Linked DNA regions of Homo sapiens: region 1 is linked to region 2. Evidence: fine-mapped expression QTL. Tissue or cell type: pancreatic islets. Region 2 holds a variant in brackets; the other region holds the start of a gene. All regions are shown on one strand. Distances are from middle to middle.

Region 1 (2,500 bases), 25 kb after region 2:
TTAAATAGAACCTCCACGCGGAGGGCAAACACATTCCATGCGCTTTTAAAAACGCCCAAGCATGACCTGGCCGGCGGCCTCAGCTCCCCCAGGCATTTTTCCGGTCTCGGCTCAATTCTGGAAATATTAATAGCTCGGTTAAGAGCTTACCGGGTGCAAAATACTTTTCGGCCTTAAAAGGCAGGGACTGTTACTGCTCCCACTCTCCAGATGAGGAAACTGAGATCCCCGGAGGTTCCAGGCGACGAGGTGGACTAGTGGGTCTCTATCGCCTGCCTCTGGCTCAGTGTCTCCCCAGGTGAGCGGCTCCCCGCGCACTGGGGCTCACAGAGCAGGACCGCAACGAGCCCCCGCCGGACCGGTGCCAGCGGCCAAGTTCGGTTCCCACAACCGCCCCCCCTCCCCGCGCCCCCAGGAGGCTCCCGGGCCGCGCCTGCTCCAGGAAAGTCCTGAATCTCTTACAACGACTTTACCAAACTCCCCGTTCTCGGCCTCCGCTCATTCATCAGACCCCGCGCTGCAGCCAAGGATTAACTTTCCCCTTTTGTTTTAAAAGATAAAAGGCCAACAGGGGCTAATTTTTCCCTTGGGGGGATACAGTGAAAGCTGGCAGGTGAGGCGCGGCGACGGCTCCCTTTCCTAGAAGTTGCTTTCGGAGCAAATCTCCGGACTGGCGGGCGGAGGGGGCGGGACCAGTGGTCGGGGTTGGGGGACCTGGAACTCGGGCCCGGCAGCCGCCGAGAACTTTTGGGCTCCGTCCCGGAGAGCTCCTGCTCCTGGTGTCCCCCCTCTTCGGCCCCGTCCCCCACCGCGCCGAGATAGACCCGAGCACGCAAGATCTGGCTGCGTTGGGCCAAATGCTACCTGCACCCCGGGACCCCTCCCCACACAAACAGGGCCCGGGACTTCGGACCAGAAAGCCCTCCCGCTCCCTCCCTGGTCCCGGGGGCGAAGGGCGCGCAGCGGGAGCTCACAGTTTGAACATGCTCTCCAGGTCCTTGATGAGGCGGCGGCTGAACTCCGGGAACTCCGTGTAGGGGTTGAAGACCCTGCAGCGCCGGGGCCGCGCAGCGCCCTCGTTGATGTCCAGCCGCCGGCTCAGCTGGGCGCTCAGCTCCGCGTCGGCGCTGGCCGTGGGCGCACGGGCGGGAGGCTCGGGCTCGGGCTTGGGCTCCGGGGCTGGGGCGCCGAGGGGAGCCAGCTGGGGGCCACTCTCCTCGGCCTCCTCGCGCCGCAGCCGGCGCTCCAGCTTGCACGCCAGCTCCTCACTGGCCATGGCGGCGGATCGCAGGACGCGGGAACGCGGGGACGCGGGACGGGACGCAGGGAGCTGGCGGGCGGCGCGCTCCTCGCAGGCTCGAGGCTCTACAACACTCCGCCGAGGCGGCGGGGACCCGGCGGTTGGGAGGGTCTGAGGACGGACTGGCGGGCGGGGCGGTCGGGGCGGAGCTGCGGCTTTAAGGAGGCGCCAGGGCTCAGCGACTGCCAGCCTGGTGGGAGGAGGCCGCCGGTGTCTGGGTGTCTGCGCGTCCCGGAGACCCCGACCTGCTTCCTCTCCCCGCGGCTCCGGGCGGGAGGCTGACCGTCCCCCCGGGACCAGGCAGGGACCCTCGGATCAACTCCGACCTTGCTGCCCCTGTCAGCTCCGGGGAAAACCGTAGCGGGAAAAAGCGTCTCGACCGTTCAGACGGTGCCTTTCTTGTCCCCCAGAAGTAACCCGACTGGAAGCGCTCGCGGCCCGGGACAGGCTGGGTGGGGGAGGCGAGCGCCCCCGAGCGACACCCACGCGTCCCCCGCGTCTGGGAGTGGTGCCCACCCTCCCCGGGGTCAGGGAGTGGGAGGCGCCCGCCCGGAGCGTGGGGCGGGGGAGCTGCTTTTCAAACACTCATTGGAACGAAATGTTTCCAAAACATGCTAAAAATACTAAAAACAAATAAGCAAACAAAAAAGAGAGAGAGCAAACGAGCAGAAAAAACTCCCGTTTTCCCTAGAGGCAGGAAAGCAGCGTAGCTTCAGGGACTCGGGTTTTTTTGCGTGAAACGCACAAGAAAAGAGAAGAAACCTGGCGCGGAGACTCACATCCGCAATCCCAACACTTAGGTGTTGGTGGCAGGATCTTTTGAGCCCAGGAGTTCGAGACCAGACTGGGCAACATAGTTAGACTGTCTCTACAAAAACTTTTAAAAAATCAGCCAGGCATAGTGGCGCTCGTCTGTAGTCCCAGCTACTCAGGAGGCTGAAGTAGGAGGATGGCTTGAGCCCGGGAGGTCGAGGCTGCAACGAGCCATGGTCAGGCCACTGCACTCCAGCCTGGGCGACAGAGTGAGACCCTGGCTCTAAAAATAAACGAAGAAGAAGGAGGGAGAGGGGGAGGAAAAAAGAAAGGAAAGAAGGAAAAGAAGCTTGAAAATTAAATCAGCATTTTTAACAAGAGGGTAAAAACAAATACAGTCGTCATTCTCCCCAAGGAAGGCTGATGCCGCTGTTACATCAGCCAGGC
Region 2 (2,500 bases):
GGCTGGAGAGGAGGCCCAGGAATCCCTGACAGGCTCCCTTCCAGCCACAGTGGCCAACTTGTGCCATTCCTCTCACCCAGCCACCCCCTCCCTGCCCTCCTCTATGGTCCTCCTGTGCCCAGGAGCTCAGGGAGCCACCTGCTTCCCCCACAGCTCTCCAATAGCACCCACTGTCCATCCTTCTCCGGGACTTAGCATTCACCACCTTCCTCTGGTGGGTGCTTCTATTTTTATTTCTTGTGTTTTTTTTTTTCTCAGTGCCCTCACTTTAACAGTATGCTGGCTACTTCTTACTCAAGCAGCTCTGTGCTCAGTGCAGCCTCCTTGCTGGCAGAGCTACATTGCAAAGCACTAAAGGACACAGACAAGATCGCTGGGTGGCTGTTGGTGAGCTTTGAGGAACCGTGAAGGATGAGACAGGTGTTCCAGATCTGGAAACAAGCAAGGTGCTTCTGGGTTTCCCAGAAGTGGGCAGAGTATGTGAATCACAGATGCACCAGCCCAGGATCTAGTGTTGCCAGAGGACGGTTTGTGAGCACTTTAAGAAGGGAAGCAACAATTTCCATGGGTTCACTGAAAATGACTTGAGGATGGACCTCACTTCCCTGTTTTCTAAGTTTTTTTTAAAAAACAGCTTTACTGAGATATAATTAACATACCATAAAATTCACTGTACAGTGCATTAATTTTTAGTATATTCAGGTTGTGCCAACATCATTACCATGTAATTCCAGAACGTTTGCCTCACCCTAAAAAGAAACTGATACCCATTAGCAGTCATTCCCCACTCTCCCCTTGCCACCCCTATCCCCCAGCAACTACTAGCCTTTCTGTCTGTATGGATTTGCCTCTTGTGGACATTTTGTAGCCCAACAATATTCCACTGTATCAATATACCACACTTCGTTTCTTCACTCATCAGGTGATGGACATTTTGTTGTTTCCACCTTTTGGCTCTTATGAATAGTGTTGCTTTGAACGTTCATATACAAGTGTTTGGACATATATTTCCATTTTTTCGTGTATATACCCAAGATTGGATGCTGGGTCACATGCTTATTTAGTTGTGAAACGTTACTGTCAAGTTGATCTAACAGAAAACCACAGCTGACCTGATGTTACCACTCAGGGTGAGCAACGCCCTCTAGCAGGC[AGGCT/T]CTTATGGGGAAGAGAAGTATGGATACAATTAGGCGGACTGGCTGTTAGTTAAAGCCACCTGGAAAGGGTGCTGACTCTCAGATTCGCTGGTGACACAAAGTTGGGGCAGAATCTAGGCCCAAAAGATCTCAGCAAGCTGGTGTGATGTCCACAGATAAAATATAGCAAAGAAAAATGCAAGGTCCTGGCTGGGTGCAGTGGCTCATGCCTATAATCCCAGCACTTTGTGAGGCCGAGGTGGGTGGATCATCTGAGGTCAGGAGTTCGAGACCAGCCTGACCAACATGGTGAAACCCCGTCTCTACTAAAAATACAAAAAAATTAGCCAGGCATGGTGGCGCATGCCTGTAATCTCAGCTACTCAGGAGGCTGAGGCAGAAGAATCTGTTGAACCTGGGAGGCAGAGGTTGCAGTGAGCCGAGATCGCACCACTGCACTCCAGCCTGAGTGACAGAGTGAAACTCAGTCTCAAAAAAAAAAAAAAAAAAAGAAAAGAAAGAAAAATGCAAGGTCCTAAACAAAGAATTACCATAGGATCCAATGGAGTCTGGACACTAGTATTCTTTTTTTTTTTTTGAGATGGAGTTTCATTCTTGTTGCCCAGGCTGGAGTGCAGTGGTGCGATCTCAGCTCACTGCAACCTCCACCTCCCGGGTTCAAGTGATTCTCCTGCCTCAGGCCTCCCGAGTAGCTGGGATTACAGGCGCCCACCACCATGGCCGGCTAATTTTTTGTATTTTTAGTAGAGACAGGGTTTCATCATGTTGGCCAGGTGGGTCTCGAACTCCTGACCTCAGGTGATCCGCCTGCCTCGGTCTCCCAAAATGCAGGGATTACAGGCGTGAGCCACCATGCCTGGCTGACACTAGTATTCTTAGCAGCATTATTCACAGTCACCAAAAGGTAGAAACAACTCAAATGCCCATTGACAAAATGTGATCTATACAAACAATGGAATTTCATTCAGCAATGAAAGGGAAGTGAACTCTGACCCATGCTCACAGGCTACAACATGGGTGAACCTTGAAGACATTGTGCCAAGTGAAATAAGCCAGTCGCAAAAAGGGCACCTCATTGTATGAATTCACTTATCAGGTCCCTAGAGTAGTCAAAATCATCGAGACAGAAGTAGAATGGTGACTGTCAAGGGCTGGGGAGGTGAATGGGGAGTTAGTGTTGAATGGGGACAGAGTTTCAGTTTAGGAGGGTGAAGACATTCTGGAAATGGATGACAGTGATGGTTGCATAATAATGTCAATGTTGTTGCCACTGAACTCTATACTTAAAAATGGTTAAAAATGGTGAATTTTGCTGGGTGCAGTCAGGCTTGCCTGTTATCCCA

Direction of the effects. Alleles are on the strand shown, and positions count from the first base shown. SD is a standard deviation of normalised expression in the study named.
In carriers of allele AGGCT in region 2, the expression in pancreatic islets of the gene that starts at base 1,377 in region 1 tends to be higher than with T alone (moderate effect, 0.54 SD a copy in PISA).

The links. PIP is the estimated chance that this variant, and not a neighbour inherited with it, causes the effect.
Region 1: it holds the start of EFHD1, and the variant in region 2 is fine-mapped to the expression of EFHD1 in pancreatic islets (PISA, PIP 0.95).

The regions. Positions count from the first base shown.
Region 1 is chr2:232,632,481-232,634,980 of GRCh38, reverse strand. EFHD1 (EF-hand domain family member D1) reads right to left here and starts at 1,377. Exons shown (of 4, transcript NM_025202.4): 1 at 975-1,377. The coding sequence starts at 1,276. RefSeq lists silencers at 908-1,202, 1,280-1,339.
Region 2 is chr2:232,657,047-232,659,546 of GRCh38, reverse strand. The region is part of intron 1 of EFHD1 (EF-hand domain family member D1); the gene reads right to left. Among named protein-coding and RNA genes, the nearest start is that of EFHD1, 25 kb to the right of the region's middle. The variant AGGCT/T (reference allele first, on the strand shown) is at 1,154.